Homo sapiens: one gene and its partner. The protein of the gene in region 1 purifies or fractionates together with the protein of each later gene. This does not show direct contact. Each region holds a gene or a part of one and is shown on either strand. Other genes may lie near its edges. The genes, in order: MYO10 and TRIO.

Region 1 (10,214 bases):
TAAAACCCCATCTCTAGTAAAAATACAAAAATTAGCTGGGCGTAGTGGCCCGAGCCTGTAATCCTAGCTACTTGGGAGGCTGAGGCTCGAGAATCGCTTGAACCCAGGAGGTGGAGGTGGTTGCAGTGAGCGGAGATCATGCTGCTGCATTCCAGCCTGGGTGACAGAGTGAGACTCTGTCACAAAAAAAAAAAAAAAAAAAAAAAGAATATTAATGGCCATTGCAGTGGCTCACATCTGTAACCCCAGTGTTTTGGGAGGCCAAGGTGGGAGGATCTCTTGAGGCCAGGAGTTCAAGGCTGCAGTGAGCTATGATTGTGCCACTGTACCCTCTGTCTAAAATGAAAATTCTTTTGTGCTTACTTCGGCAGCACAAATACTAAAATTAAAGCAAGACAGAGAGAAGATTAGCATGGCCCCTGTTCAAGGATGACATACAAATTCATGAAGCAGTTTATATTTAAAAAATATATATGTTGAAAACTTTTCAGGCCAGTCACGGTGGCTCACGCCTGTAATCCCAGCACTCTGGGAGGTCGAGGCGGGTGGATTACCTGAGGTCAGGAGCTTGAGACCAGCCTGGCTAACATGGTGAAACCCTGTCTCTACTAAAAATTCAAAAAATTAGCTGGGCATGGTGGCGGGCACCTGTAGTCCCAGCTGCTCAGCAGTCTGAGGCAGGAGAATCACTTGAACCTAGGAAGCCGAGGTTGCAGTGAGCGGAGATCACGCCATTGCACTCCAGCTTGGGCGACAAGAGTGAAACTCGGTCTCAAGAAAATAAAATAAAATAAATTATTTTTGGCTGGGCGCGGTGGCTTACGCCTGTAATCCCAGCACTTTGGGAGGCGGAGGCGGGCAGATCACCAGGTCAGAAGATGGAGACCATCGTGGCTAACATGGTGAAATCCCGTCTCTACTAAAAAAATACAAAAAAATTAGCTGGGTGTGGTGGCAGGGGCCTGTAGTCCCAGCTACTCCAGAGGCTGAGGCAGGAGAATGGCGTGAACCCGGGAGGCGGAGCTTGCAGTGAGCTGAGATCGCGCCACTGCACTCCAGCCTGGGCAACAGAGCGAGACTCTGTCTCAAGACTCCCAGCCTCCTCAGTAGCTGGGACAACAGGCGCCTGGCTAATTTTTTGTATTTTTAGTAGAGATGGGGTTTCACTGGGTTAGCCAGGATGGTCTCGATCTCCTGACCTCGTGATCCGCCCGACTCGGCCTCCCAAAGTGCTGGGATTACAGGTGTGAGCCACCACGCCCGGCAATTATTTTCATTTTTAATTATTATCAATACATAGTGTATATATTTATGGGGTACATGTAATGTGTGGATACAGGCATACAATGTGTAATAATTGCATTATTTGTAATTGTGATTAGGGTATTCATCGCCTCAAGAATTTATCATTTCTTTGTGTTATGAACATTACAATTCCACCCTTTTAATTAATTAAAAATATGCAATAAATTATTGTTGCTGTAGTCACCCTGTTGTGCTATCAAATACTAGTTCTTCATTCATCCTATTAAGAAAAAGTTGTATTTGCTGTTATCTGATGCCTAACAAAAAAAATAAGTACATAAATACGTAAAATAATTTTAAGATAGGAACAACAGAATATTAAACCAAGCGTGAGGAGCTTAGGGCTCTATACAATTAACTATATGGGTTGCACACCTATGAAGCTTGCCCTGAAGCTAAGAAGTTAAAGAATTTTTAAAGAGGGGAATGTCAAGGAGAGTGAAATTGGAAAACAGGCTGTTGAATTTGATGATTTGAGGTTACAGAGACTTTCAAGAGAGTGGGGTGGGGGACAAAAATCAGATCATGAGGGGTTTAAGGGTTGATTGCTTGGAGGATGAAGTACAGCAGTGAGAAGTTGGGCATTTGAAGAGAGATGGTCCAGTAGTTCAGAGAGCAATTGGGTTAACGAGCAGCTGTTTTCAAATAGAGCCGACACGATCTTGTTTATTGGCTTGGATACTGAGTGGGAAAGGCTGAAGATGCAAGCAAGAGGAATAAGTGAGGACACAAGGTTTGGAAGTGGCAAACATGTTGTGATTAACAATAATGGTAGAGAGATGATAAACTTTGCAGTCAGTCTCTGAGCCACCCTGGAGTAATGGAAGAGAGAGGGTCATAAAGACACAAAAACATCAAGAGAGAAAGCGAGATGTCAAACATAGCTCCGAGCGGGCTTAATCATTAGGCAGCTTTTCAGGGTTTCAGGGATTTTTGTACTTTTTCTTTATTATACGCAACAGGACCAGCCCCAAACATGAAAACTGATTAATTTGTGAAACTAACACTCCATGATTTTTGTAGGCTATCAGCTGTAGGAGGCATTCTTGCTGTAGTTTGAAGTGATGGGGATTTAGTTAGAATTAACTGTCCATCACATGCTCTCTAATGAGGTGAATGACATCCTTGCCCTAGCTCATCTTGTAGAGAAATACAACCGCTGGCAGAAATGAGTTCTTCCAGTGTCTTCTCCCCATTTTAGTTCTATGTTTATTCTTCTGTACTTACTTCTATTACAATGTGAAACATTTCAGGTATTTTCTCCCAAATTTATTCTATTGAAACCACCTACAATTGTTTTCAGTTTCAGCAGAAAAAAATTCCCTTGAGGATTTCTGAATGCTAAGGTATGAGAAATAAAAGAAACACTTGTGTAAAAATTTAAATCACATTAAAAAAATTCCCTTTTGTTTGAGAAGGTAAAAACATTTGATGTTTTAAACATCCAAGAGGGTAAGTGAGCCCAAAGGATGGACTGCTGTTTAGTTAAGCATGAAAGGACTTTAGAATTGTCAGTTATTAACTTCTAATTTGTGTGAAAGAAACTTTGAGAACTTTCCCTTTCTATAACTAGTAATTAAGCCATTATTCTAACAGGGGCAATTAAGGGGTGAGTGTTTAATAAAAAAAAAAGATAATGGAAAAGACTCTACGCCCCAAGACACATCAAGACAAGGAATGGCAGCAGCAGCAACAACAAAAGGAACTCAGTTTGAATTCACAAAGGAAATGAGACAACCCGTTTCAACTAAAAACGAACAAACTGTTGGTGGAGAACAAAAACAGAAGATTGTTATTACTTAACTCACAAATATACATATGCAACTCTCTCTTTCAGTGGGGAAATGATCCAATCAGTATTAAAATTTTGTTGATTGTAGATTAATGTATGCCACTAAATAAGATAACTTAACTTGAGCTTTTGGGGGTGTTTTATTTTGAAAATGTCATACTCTGTTAGCCTGGTTTATTTGAAAGACAGGTAGGACAGAGAGTTGAGACAGACCTTTGCCTCATGGAAACACACTCATCCTTCTATTATTACCATTCTTGTGCCTCTGTCGCTTCTCAGAGGGCAGGGTTTAATAGATTTGGTCTAAACTGCTTTGTCCAGTGGTTAGCACAACTCTCTCAGAGGAAGCACTCAAATTTTAAGAAATGGTAATAAGACTAGATATTCTTAGAAATCTATTGATTTAAAATGCTTCCCAGTCTCTGTCCAATCCTGTCAAAGCCCTTATAAATTTAACACGCTGCTTTTTAACAACTGATTCAACCCCAGATACTTGAGGGTTAGATATCTTATTTAGAACATGCATTTTGCTGTTCAGCAAGTAAGAGTTTCGCTGCCACAGCTTATCTTACACCTTTTTGAGAATATGGGGATATATAGAAAAGCTGATGAATTCTGATAAAGTGGCGATTCCCAAGCTCTGAACTGGTTATCGGGGTGCTTATTAAAATGCAAATTCTTTCAATATAATCCACAGGTAAAGAAATAAAAAATGCAAATTCTTAGGAAATCAATTTGCCACAGAGATTTGGAGTCAGTTTTTTTTTCTTTTTAGCAACTGATAAGGTGATCTAGGGATCAACATTGATAAAACATTGATGTAAGTTTTTTTTTTTAACTTTCTTACCCTGTTAACTGATGATGTAAGCTTTTTGAAGAAATAAAATGATTCAGTAAAATCTAAACTTTATATATTGGATCTGGCTCACCATTCTTTACGTGAGTCAAATTGGGGGCAATTATTAACGATATCTTCATAATTGGCAGGAAAATCACCTTTAAAAGATTAGTAGACTTTAAAAAAACAGTTTTAGGCTTACATAAAAATTGGCCAGAAAGTACAGAGAGTGTCCATAGACCCCTCCCAGCCCCTCACCCTCACTTGCCCCTATTATTAACATGTTGCATTAGTGTGGTACATTTGTTATAACTGATGAGCCGATATGGAAAGTGACTTTTGAAATGACATGGCGAGGTTGCCCAACGTATCAGTGGCTGGGCTGATGCTGGGAACCACGTCACACCCACACACTCACTTCAACAATCTCCCTGGTAATTTCTCTGGCAGAGATGTTGTGTGCAGATTAATACCATAATGACTGTAATTGTTCTGCTCCAGTATCTGAACACCAGTGGTTGCAGGACCCATTTGACTAAGCACTGGGATTGTTGGTATTTATCCTGACTCCATCTTCACTTTCCTTGCGACCTTGGACACAAGCTTTAATGGCTCAGCGCCTTAAGCGTGTAAACCTGTGAAACAGAACAACATTGCACAATATCATTAACTAATTTACACCTTGACTCTTTCTAAAGGGAAGTGAGGTGGGAGCAATGATATTAATGGTGAAGAACTGGACTGGGATAAGTTACAAACATGCTTGACTTTCCCCATAAGGATTACAGAAGGATGTTTCATTCATTCATTCATGCTGTGAGACAGCCTGGGGATACTCATCTTAAAGCACAGTCCTTCCCCAACAGTCTTAGGAATAAATCCTAGAGTGGGCATCTAGCCCAGTGGTTACGGGGAGCTTGGGTGGGGTGAGTGGAGTAGCATCTTTGGGAAGGGTTCCTTCCCCTGGAAGGTGTGACTTTGTGAGCTGAGTTTTAAAGGTTGAGTAGCAGTTGGCAAATTCCCTGGAGAGAGCATCTCAAATCTTTTGTGCTGAAGAACCAGCCATTTTTGTTCCCAGTCGGCCAGGTACCAATACACTGCGGCGCCAGGTGTGACTCACCACGTGAGTCTGACAACACCCAAACTGGTTTATACTCGGTTCAAAGAGTCCACTGATCATGTGCTTGGATGTCGTGGCATTATTAAATTGCTACAAACGTTTACTCTTAATTTCTCTACTTGTTACAAGCTTTCGTTCAGCACAGGACCAGGTAGCACCTGAGGGGCACCTGGAAAGCAGATTGTTCCAGCCTGCGTTCTAACAAGGTTCCCAGGTGACCCTCGCACAGCATAAAGTTAAAAGAACTGCCCTAGGGGAAACGGGACTCAGTGCCAGGTGGGTTTGATCATTCGTCCATCTCAGTGCCATCTGCCATCTCTGCTTCCTTGAGGTCTAGAAAAGGGTTACATTTTTAAAGGTGATATTGGCCACGTCCCCTTCCAGTTTCAAAACTACATTTCCCCGCTGTTACGCAAACGTCTTAAGCAAACCCGACTGCAGGACAGAAAGTCAACACGGGAATGCAGCTTCCAGAAATTCTGATTAGCCTCCGTCTTCCGCTTTGATCTGGCCCCGCAGCCCCGGCAGCTCCGCTGACCGCGCTTCCTTCCCGAGATTGCTAGTCTACCGGGCTGCATTAATGAGATCCGTGTTGAGCCGGTTCCCGGGTCTGCTAAACATGAAAGGCACAGAAGCCCCCAGTCCCTTCTCCTCCCCTCTAAGTGATTGTTTAGTCTCTCTCTGCAGAGGGAAGAGTTAAATCCCCTCCCCACGCCTACGTGGGAAGACCTGGGGAAACACGCGGCCCCCTCCCGGGTCCGCTAACGAGCCTGCGGCTGCTTCGGGCTTAGAGTGGGCGGGGCCTGGTCGGGAAGGGGGCGGGGCGCTCCGCCCGGGCGGGGCCAGACGGTGTGGTTGGCGGAGGGCCAAGCTCCTGGGGGCGGGGCCGCGAGCGGGAGGGCGGGGCCGGCTGCGGGAGGGCGGGGCCGGCTGCGGGAGGGCGGGGCGAGGTCGCTGGGCTGTAGTCCCGCGGGCGAGAGCTGGCTGAGCCGCGGCGCGGGACTGCTCACCTCCAAGCGCTCGCGCGGGGATCGCGGCTCCTGCTCACTTTGCGGCCCGCTGTCCTCCTGCCCGCCCCGAGGGCCCCCGGCCGGAGCGCAGAGGGAGGGGGCCGCGCTCGCCAGCACCCCGCCGCCTTCCCCCGCCTGGGGGAAGAATGTGCCACCAGCTGTTCTCCGCTTGCGAGCGCTGCGCCCAGTAGTGAGGAACTTGGAGGAAGAAGAGACAAAGGCTGCCGTCGGGACGGGCGAGTTAGGGACTTGGGTTTGGGCGAACAAAAGGTGAGAAGGACAAGAAGGGACCGGGCGATGGCAGCAGGGGAGCCCCGCGGGCGCGCGTCCTCGGGAGTGGCGCCGTGACACGCATGGTTTCCCCGGACCCGCGGCGGCGCTGACTTCCGCGAGTCGGAGCGGCACTCGGCGAGTCCGGGACTGCGCTGGAACAATGGATAACTTCTTCACCGAGGTAAGTGCGCTCCCAGTCCGACCTGGCCTCCGGAGCCCAGGGAGAGAGGCGTCTGCCCACCACGCCGCGCGCCCTGGGTACTTTTTCCTAAGCCCTGGAAGGCGCAACTTTCTGGGAGTCTCCTGAAATCACCCCCCATCCCCCCGCGGAGTCTCTGATGAGTAAGCCCGGGCAGGTTTTGTTTCGTCCTGTCCCGCGCTCGCATTTTGCTCCGGGAGGTAGCGAAGGTGCGTTTCCGTTTGCGTGGGTGGCTGGCTCTCGGGGCGCCCTGGGACACCCGCGCCAGGTGAGGCGGCGCGCGCCGGGGCGCGGGCGGGGCGATCCGCCCGCTCGACTGCCCGGGTGCAGGAAGCCCAATAAAATGTTCAGCGGGGACCTGCCTTTCTCCAAGAAAGGTCTTGTCTGGTATTTCCTTTGCAAAACGTGCGGGCTTCCTGTGCAGGGGTTCAAACACTTCCAGAGGAGACGGCTTAATGAAGTGTGAGAAGGAGAGGCAAGGGTTTAATCGGTTACTTTGCTCGCCGAGAAGTGCTCTTTTAAGGCTTGGGATAACTCCAGACCCTGGGATCAAATGATCATGTATTTGTGTAGAGTGTCCATGCAGATTTTGAATTCGAATGTAAAGAAAATTCGTTTAGGGCAAACAGTGGCTATTTTAATAGATGAAACGGATGCCCTCTTTAGGGTCGTTGAGGGTGGGACACTGAAACTTAACTTGAGAACCCTTTTTCCCCCTTTGGGATCGAGACTTACTGTGGTTTCTTGGCTCCCTTTCCTTTCTTGGTTGTGTTTATTTAATAAATTCTGTTTAAGTTTGAGGTTTGAAGTGGCTCAAAGTAAACTTAGTTGACTTGAGAGAGTCTGATGTGATTTTCGTTGAAAGCCAGGGAATGTTTTCTGAGTGCAGAACCGCTTTGGAGTCTTCCAGCAAATCAGATTGATGAGGGCTTGCCTCTGTGTTAGCCGACTTGGTTTATCTGATTTAATTGGATATAATATTTCAAGTCATTCTGCTTTCTGCATGCTCACTGACTGTATTCTCAGACAGCTATTCATACTGGCCAAAGTGATAAATGCATTCTTGTTTAGTAGTCATATCTAGTTTTTAAAAGTGGTGTTTCAGATGTGATACCCACATTCATTGTGGAAGGAAGACTAGAAAGGAATTATCCATCAATACATATTTTTCCTTTTCTTAAAAAAAGTGAAATATATATAATTGTGAGACGCTCGCATTTTCTAGTCCATAGACTTTTGTTTTCATGCTTGTCGAAAGGCACCAGAACTTTCTGCAAGAGTTGCACGTTGTCCAGTGGTAAAGGACCCTCGGGCTACAGTGAGTTCCGGTGTTTAATTGCTTGCATCTGTAAGAAAACGGAGGCCCTGCCCCTAGGGCAATGATTCTTAACTTTGTTGTTTTTGTGTTCTGGGTCCCTTAGAAAATCTGATGAAAATATAGAAATTTGTATTCAGTTTGCACGGATCTCACTCCTCCTGTAGCCTGTCTGAGCACCACAGGGGTCCGTGGCTCCCCCTTGGGGAGAACTCTGCCCCCTAGTGCAAGTGGGGGGAACATCAGGATAACGCGCTACAGCGTCCTGATCTCCTGTTACCCGGTGAGACTTTGACTTTTCAAAGTACTCTTTTCATCTTGCACTGGATACCTTAGTTCAGTGTAAGGGGCCTGGTTGTTGGATTTTATTTCTGTGATCAATATTATTTTGCAGTTGGCCATTAGTGATCTTCTACTTTCTCCTCTTCATTTTGTAGACAGAATCTTAACCCAAAGATATGAGTAAGTCCCTTGCCCAGCTTTGAAGAGCTTGTTCACGAATCCAGAGCCTTTTTCCTTTGCTGCTGGTGACTTTGGTATTTCTGGGAACTTTTCGCTTATTTTAAGGTTATACTTTTAATCTTGTGATGTATGTGTATTACAATATTAACTTCTAATCAGCCGTGAAAGTTCCACCCTTAAATCTAATCACTTTGAGTGGGAAGGAAGCAGGGCCAGTCAGAGAGGTTAAATAGTGAGGTATTAATTGTAGACATACTCTTAACATAGATCCCAGCTCCCCTTTCTCTCTCTCATGTCTTGTAATGGAGCATCCTTTTGTTAAATTGTCCAGTGAAGAAAATGCTGTAATTAATGTCCTGTTAGAATAGAAACAGCGAGTGTGGAAGTGATATATTCCCCAAGGACAGCTAAATTGTTTGGCCTCCTTATCACTAAGTAGAATTCTGTCTTTGCTAACTTTTCCCATTGTGGCTTAGGGGTAAATGACTTGTTGCTTGTTGGACAACAGTTTAAAGCCAGTGCTAACAATTGGGGAAAAATTACTGAATGAGATGTTGCCTGTTTAGCTTTGTGTATGAATGGCCAAATAATAAGGAAATGGGAGCTGCTTGTGATTCGCAACTGCTATTTCTAGCTAGACCAGGGTTTCTCAAACCTGGTACCATTGCTGAGTAATTCTTTGTTGTTGGAGGCCGTCCTGTGTGTTGTAGGAGGTTAAACGCATCCCTGGACTCTACTCAGTAATTGTTAACCCTATCCCCCAAGTTGTGACAACCCGAAAGGTCTGCAGACATTGCTGAATGACAGGGGAGCAAAATCACTCCCAGTTGAGATCCACTGAGCTAGACCTGTGAAGCAGTTGTTTGGCGGTATTAATTCCTATTTGTGTTGCAGGCACAGCCTTGTCTGCGCTTCCCTGTTTTAAATAGGATTTGGCCGGGTGCGGTGGCTCAAGCCTGTAATCCCAGCACTTTGGGAGGCTGAGGTGGGAGGACTGCTTGAGCCCAGGAGTTCAAGACCAGCCGGGGCAACATGGTGAAACCTCATCTCTACAAAACTTAGCTGAGTGTGGTGGTATGCACCTGTAGTTCCAGCCATTCTGGAGGCTGAGGTGAGCCCAGGAGGTCCAGGCTGCAGTGAACCATGATTGCACCGCTGCGCTCCAGAGCAACAGACCCTGTGTCACAAAATAGATAGACTCTTACTGCCTGCTAGATTGATTGATTAATTAGATAGATAGTGTCTTACTGCGCGCCAGGGGGAAGCTTGCAAAGCTTGTGCCAGTCAGCTGACAGCTGCTGACTTCAAAATGTTCTCCAGGATTAGAGAAACTGAGCATGCCACATTCCTCAGTTTCAGTTTCTTCATGGCCTTCATTAGAATTTTATGGCTCCCCTCGAGTTAATTGTGTGTATGCTTTGGGGAAGCTTGTTTTTTCAGCATTTCTAAGTAAGTTGTTAAGTTTACTTCAGCCAGAAACTAAGTTTAGATGTGTCTGTAACCAGAAGCAATAATAATAAAAAAAGCAAACAGAAAAGGCTCAACCAGGAAAGGGGCAAGGCTACTGTGCAAACTTGTGTTGATGTGCTGAAGTGGACACTGTTTTCATGTCTTCAGGGCCAAGTACAGTGCCTGGAATATAGTAGGGGCCAGTAAGTACCAAATGAAATTGACCTTTCTGTTTCCCTGTTAGGCAGAGGTGTGATGTGTCTGTTCAAATACAAGATCTCGGAGGATTATTAGTGAGACTAATCAAACACCTTGATTTTCAGAATAAATATGTAAAATGTACACAAGTAAGATACTCACAAATACAAATACAGAAAGCAGGTATTAATGTTTAAGGGATAAATTGTTAGTGGAAAATATTCCAGACATACCTGTTTCTTCCAGTCTGGTT
Region 2 (7,000 bases), 2.5 Mb from region 1:
TAATCTGTGACTGTAATTGAGGCGCCAGAGGTCTATACAAATGTTGGCAAGAATTTTATTTAGATAATTATTCTGTTTAGAGCCAAGAACAGTAAAAGAAAAAAAAAATTAAACTCCATAAATTAATAAAAGAAAAATACATTATTCCATAGGAGGAAATCTAAAGAAAACAGCTTCAGATAACTTAGAAGGCAATGTTTTCTTCTCCCCTTCCTTTTCCCCCTTTATTTCTTGTTTTAGGGGAAAATCGTTGCCCAGGGTAAACTGCTCTTGCAGGACACATTCTTGGTCACAGACCAAGATGCAGGACTTCTGCCTCGCTGCAGAGAGAGGCGCATCTTCCTCTTTGAGCAGATCGTCATATTCAGCGAACCACTTGATAAAAAGAAGGGCTTCTCCATGCCGGGATTCCTGTTTAAGAACAGTATCAAGGTAACGTGTGTCTCTGTGTGATTTCTCTGTGCCAGCGCATGTACCCGTCACACCGATACACTGTTTCCTTTTAATGATGACATACCCTGATGCTTCGTTTAAGTATTTGAGAATTTTCTAGTATATTTCAGAGCCTTGAATTCACCCCATTTCTCTTTTTACTGTCTGTGTTCTTGAGTGGCTGATGTCTTGTACACACCTCTGTGTAACCACAGCCATTCATTCTTACCATGATGAGAACTGGTCATGGGTAGTGTTTATGCACCCCCTTCTCTAGGACCGAGGAAAACTGGTTTAAATTTGATAGCACGGATTTGGGGGATTGCTCTATGATCAGAGAAAAAGTTCACTCGGTGTCTTCTTCTCTTCCTCCACTCACCAAGGAGGTACTGAGCACTCAGCAACAGGCGTGAGGGCTCCAGGAATGGCCCAGCTGGATGCCCTCCCTGCCCTGATGTAGCTTATCCTCTAATAGGAAAGGAAGACAGAGGGACAAAGAAAATAATTGCCAATGGCCCTCAAGTCTGTAAAAGGGACAAACCAAGGGTGAGGTAGAGAAGAGCAGAGGGCAGGCCTGAGGTCCCAGCAGATGACTCCTGGGAGATACATGCCCCCGCCAGGGTCCTCCTGGCTCTGCAGCTGTGCAGACCCTGAGGTCAGAAGGGAGATGTACTTCCCTTTGGTAGGGCCTCCTGCCCTACGCCATCAGGGACAGGGAACTCTCAGACCGTGCACACCTGCGGGCCTCACAGCACACAGGCAGAACATTGCGTCCTCCCCCATCCGACTCTCCGTTCAGGCTTTTGTTGGCTGTCCCCAGCAGCCTCCATTTGCCTAAACCTGGGGTGGGTCTGTCCGTGGGCACAGGTGCCAGGCTGGGGGCCTCTGCCCACCAGCACCTAGGAGGGCTCTGGAGCCAAACAGCTGGAGAAGGAGGCCGCCTCTGCATGAGGCTGGGCTGCGGGCCCTCGCACCTCCCACCACCCGCCTGCCCCTCCAGACTCCGCCTTTTGAGGCCCCTCACCCTGAGGCCATGTCAGGCACAGACCCTCTGGGCTCACCACTACACTTGAGCCTCCCATCCCCTGAACTGTGCGCCCATCCCCTGGACGGCAGCCATCATCTGAACTGTGCACCCATGCCCTGAACTGTGCACCCATACGCTGAACTGCACCCATACGCTGAGCCGCACCCATCCCTTGGACTGCAGCCATCATCTGAACTACACCCATCCCCTGCACTGCACCCATCCCCTGAGAACCACCCATCCCCTGCACTGCACCTATCCCCTGAGAACTGCACTCATCCATCCCGGGCACTGCACTCATCCATCCCCTGCACTGCACCCATCCCCTGAGAACTGCCTACCCATTCTTCTCACAAGTCTTTTGGCAGAAAATCACTCCAGCACTGTAGGAATTTCGTATATATTTTTTACATATTTTTATAAAATTATTTGACATATTTTAATCATGATATCACATACAATTTTATAACATAGGTTTTAGTGATATTTGAGATTTGTTTAATGGTGTCATTTACTCCCTGGGAAGTAAGTAAGGATAAATACTGAGGCATCATAGAGGGGTTTGGGAAACAGGTAATCCCAGACGCATATTTCTAGTTAATTGTTCAGGCTGTTAGTTCAAACTATTAGTTTAACAGCCTTGTATTCCCCATGTACCTGAGTTAAGAGGCATTAAAAAGCTTCAGATGTTTTCTGAGGCAGTAAAAATGGCAGTTCAACTGAAAAGTGCTTGTTTCAGGATTGAGTTAGGATGAACTTCACTTTGCACTTGGCCAGTGGGGATCAATGTGCTTTAATTTTTTGTTGTGGTAAAATACACATAACATAAATGTTCCATCTTTAATTACCTAGCTCCATGGGATTAAGAACATTCATGTTTTGCAGCCATCACCATCATCTGTCTTCACAACTCTTCATCTTGCAGAGCTAAAGCCCTGTACCCATTAAACAGTAACTCCCCACTTCCCCACCCCCAAGCCCCTGGCAACCTCCACTCTACTTCCTATCCCCACATTTGACTACTCTAAGGACTTCCTGTAAGTGGAATCATAACAATAGTTGTATTTTGAGACTGGCATATTTCACTTAACATAACGTCTTCAAGGTTCATCCATGTCGTATTGTGTGTCGGAATTTCTTTCCTCATTAAGGCTGAAAAACTGTCCACATAGCCCACATTTTCTTTGTCCATTCATCGGTCAGTGGACACATGGTTTGCTTCCTTTCCACCTGTTAGCTATTATGAATAATGTTTTTTTTTTTTTAAGGTGAGTTGCCTTTGCCTGGAGGAAAATGTGGAAAATGATCCCTGTAAATTTGCTCTGACATCGAGGACGGGTGACGTGGTAGAGACCTTCATTTTGCATTCATCTAGTCCAAGTGTCCGGCAAACTTGGATCCATGAAATCAACCAAATTTTAGAAAACCAGCGCAATTTTTTAAATGGTAATGTGTGTTCTGTTACTAGATGTGTGCTTTCTTTCCTCGTGTACTCACTTGTATTTATCTTCCCTCTCCCATTCATATCCATAGTAATGACAGAACTTAGCACTCACCACTCTTCAGGCACTGCCTAGATATTGCTTTATTTCATCTTCACAACCACCCTGTGTGGCCAGTACTATTATTATTCCTGCTTTACAGATGAGAAAGCTGGGGCACTGAGCGGCTGAGTAATTTGCTTCGAGTCCCACAAGTTGTTGAGGGCAGAGTCAGGACACAGAGTGGCCATCTGGCTCTTGGTCTGTGCCCCTCGCAGCTACACTGTCCCACACATAACATGTACGAGGGCCCAGTCCTAGGAAGAGGAGTTTGCGAGAACACGAGATGGCATTGGCCAGAGACATTCACGAGGGCCTTGCACACCCACACCTCCTTTCCCCATTAAAAAAATAAGAGATGGGGCCAAGCATGGTGGCTCAAGCCTATAATCCCAGCACTTTGGGAGGCCAAGTTGGGCAGATCACCTGAGGTCAGGAGTTTGAGACCAGCCTGACCAACATGGAGAAACCCTGTCTCTACTAAAAATACAAAAAAATTAGCCGGGCGTGGTGGCGCATGCCTGTAATCCCAGCTACTCAGGAGGCTGAGGCAGGAGAATCACTTGAACCCAGGAGGCGGAGATCGTGGTGAGCTGAGATCGCACCATTGCACTACAGCCTGGGCAACAAGAGTGAAACTCTGTCTCAAAAAAAAAAAAAGAGACGGTTCAGTACTTCCCTGCTTCCGTGACTTGAGGGATTGCAGAGATGCTGCAGAACACAGCGGGCGTGGCCACACTACCCTTCCATTGCCTCTTAATGTATTTGATCTCTTTGCAAATGTTGGCTTCAACACTGGCTTTTAATTTGGTGATCAGCAAAGAACTTTGAGAATTCAGTCCGAAGCTATGTGCCCATGTCATCTGTGTCTTCTGGGTTCTTTGCTTCATGTTCGTATTCACGGTCTGCATCTATGCCTGCTCAAGCTCAATAGGATGTTGTAATGTTCTCTGTCACAAGAAAGCCACCTCTACACCTTGCGTGATGTTCAAGAGCCAGGAACATAGGCACTCAGTGAAAAATCTCAAGCCTCATGGCATTTTTAGCCAAGTGTTATGTGCTGCCTGGGTGTTAACTCCAAGTTTCCATCCTGCTTGCAAGCTGATAATCATTTACATCTGCAGCTAGGGGTGGGCGCTTGAGGATAGGGAGGCACAGTTCCTCAGGTGCGAAGAGGTTCAATGTGGTGTTCTTATGTGGTGCATTGAGTTCCAATCCATAGCTTGGAATTGAGAATGCTCTAAATTTTCATCATTGTCTTTAAAATAGAATGAACTGCCCCCAGATTGCACGCATGGTCTGTGATGTCAGAGTTTACTTGACACCCACTCAGTTGAGTAACTAGTAATACCTATCCCAGAGGATTAAAGGAGATCGCTCATGGGCTGGGAGCTTGGGACCCTTTCACCTGCTTCTTGCACACCCCTTAGTCCTGGAAGAGGCTGTGGCCAGCACAGAGTTTGTAGACTGCCTCTGGCTCCTCAACGCTTGCTCACACATGCCTGGGGCTGGGGCTGGGGGGCTGCATCTGCTTGTCGTATTTTTCAAAGGCTTTAACACTTCAAGAGTTTGTGCATGTTTCCATACATGTTATTTTGGCCTGATTTCTGTGTTTTTCTACAATGAAGATGTAAGAAAACTCAGGCACCCAAGTCAAGAGATGGGACAGCCTCCCGCTCCAGGGGCCTCTAGTAGCTCCTTAGCTTCCCTCAGGGCTGTGTTCAGCCTGCAGAGCAGAGGTGGTCTATGAAACCGCCTCCACGGCAGCCCCAGGGTTTCTTTTTCACCCCAGGACTCTGGTTTAGGAAAGACCTTTGCGGAAGCCAGTTGGTAGCTGGAGGAGTTCTAGTCAAATCTGTTGCCTTGGTCTTCCTGTGGACACTGGCCCTTAGTCCGGGATGTGCTGAGGAATGCGGCCCCTTCCACCCGCTGCACTCAGCCGGCATCCCAATACCTTGGCAAGCAGGGGCCTCTTCTAGCTCTCCTGATGGGTGGGGTTGCTCTGCGCCCCTGCACGGGGTCTGCCCCATGACCCATCCCAGGGTGGGCCCTGTTCCTCCCTCACCCCGCGGCGTGCTCCTTGGCGCCCTGACCCAGTCTCTCCCGCTGTCTTGTCTTACAGCCTTGACATCGCCAATCGAGTACCAGAGGAACCACAGCGGGGGCGGCGGCGGCGGCGGCAGCGGGGGCAGCGGCGGGGGTGGGGGCAGCGGCGGCGGCGGGGCCCCCAGTGGCGGCAGCGGCCACAGTGGCGGCCCCAGCAGCTGCGGCGGCGCCCCCAGCACGAGCAGGAGCCGGCCCTCCCGGATCCCCCAGCCTGTCCGACACCACCCCCCCGTGCTGGTCTCCTCTGCAGCCTCGAGCCAGGCAGAGGCAGACAAGATGTCAGGTACGTCCACCCCCGGGCCCTCCCTGCCTCCCCCTGGCGCGGCCCCCGAGGCCGGCCCCAGCGCGCCCAGCAGGCGGCCCCCCGGCGCGGACGCCGAGGGGTCCGAGCGAGAAGCGGAGCCGATCCCCAAGATGAAGGTGCTGGAGAGCCCCAGGAAAGGCGCCGCGAACGCCTCGGGGTCGAGCCCAGACGCCCCCGCCAAGGACGCGCGCGCTAGCCTGGGCACCCTGCCGCTTGGGAAGCCCCGGGCCGGGGCCGCTTCGCCGCTGAACTCGCCGCTCTCCAGCGCGGTCCCTTCTCTCGGCAAGGAGCCCTTCCCCCCCAGCAGCCCCCTGCAGAAGGGGGGCTCCTTCTGGAGCTCCATCCCCGCCTCCCCCGCCAGCCGACCCGGCTCCTTCACCTTCCCGGGGGACAGCGACTCCCTCCAGCGGCAGACACCCCGCCACGCGGCCCCTGGCAAGGATACTGACCGCATGAGCACGTGCTCCTCGGCCAGCGAGCAGTCCGTGCAGTCCACCCAGAGCAACGGGGTAAGCGCGTCGGGGGGCCCGCGCCCTCCCGCCCCCCTGCCTCTGTCCCGCCAGCTCTAAACGCCACCGCGGCTGTTCTCACTAACTCGGCTGCCCAGCGCTCTCCGCCGCCCGTTGCGGCCTCTACCTGGGACCAGGCTAACCCTCCTGCGGGCCGGCCCACGGCGCTACTAACTACTCCTTGCTTTGTTCGTGTCTTCTAATAAGAGCAAGCCGATCATTAACCTTCTCAACGCAGCGTCTTTTGGTTTCTTCCATTTCCAACCAGCAGAATATCTTCTTGGAACTTTCTTTTTTAACCTCTGCCTTCCTCACGCACCTATTTTTTGGAGGGTTCCTTTTCCCTGCTCTCTACCTCCTGTTTAAATTGAAACCTGTACACTTTAAGCTTTTTGCTCATCGCTTGGTTTTGCTCTTTTATGCCTTAAATTATCTTTGCGGCATTTTTGACTCATCTGCTGGGGAAGACCATTCCCTCAAGAAAACTTCCAACAGCAACTCAAAGCAAACTAAGATGAAAAAATGGGGGGAAAGAATCTGTCCACTGGGAACGCTTTACGTCACCGTGTTGCTCTGGAAGACAGAGACTGCTCTGGGCACCTGGCGAGGCGGCTCTGCAGTGCAGGCTGGGGCCGGTCCCTGCGGCCTGCTGGGCTCTGGCCTCGTTTGGCCCATCACTCATGCTGCCGTCTCAAGCACAAGGGTTGCTGTGGTGGGTTTTCCCTCTGTTTCCTGCTTCCTCACTGTCCTACCCACCTGTTTCCTACAGGGCAGATGGCCTGGCCCGTAACACTTTCCTGAAGGCATGCGTGAGTGAATAGAACTGTTCTAATGAGTGTATGTTTGAACGCTTTATAAATTTTTAAATACATTTCTCTAAAAGGGTCTGTGTCTCTCTTTATATTAAAAAAAAAATCTAGCTTTTGCATGTCTTTCTCTTTCCTCTGGACTTATTAATGCCTTAATTGGTTTGACTTGGTCTTATCCTTTCCTACTATTTTTTGTTATGTATTTTGTTAAACTTTAATTGGGGAAGAAATTAACAAATGGGTCTTGATACATTTATTTACAGTTGAAGTGG

Evidence for each region.
Region 2: the proteins of MYO10 (region 1) and TRIO purify together in Homo sapiens (affinity purification with mass spectrometry; 2 studies listed by BioGRID and IntAct, with this or other methods). This does not show direct contact.

What each region holds. Positions count from the first base shown.
Region 1 is NC_000005.10:16,932,093-16,942,306, reverse strand, and holds the start of MYO10 (unconventional myosin-X), read left to right. Parts: upstream 1-6,018; 5' UTR 6,019-6,498; coding exon 6,499-6,519; intron 6,520-10,214. UniProt on the Homo sapiens protein: Myosins are actin-based motor molecules with ATPase activity. Unconventional myosins serve in intracellular movements. MYO10 binds to actin filaments and actin bundles and functions as a plus end-directed motor.
Region 2 is NC_000005.10:14,482,342-14,489,341, forward strand, and holds part of TRIO (triple functional domain protein), read left to right. Parts: intron 1-240; coding exon 241-432; intron 433-2,727; coding exon 2,728-2,905; intron 2,906-5,122; coding exon 5,123-5,919; intron 5,920-7,000. UniProt on the Homo sapiens protein: Guanine nucleotide exchange factor (GEF) for RHOA and RAC1 GTPases. Involved in coordinating actin remodeling, which is necessary for cell migration and growth. Plays a key role in the regulation of neurite outgrowth and lamellipodia formation.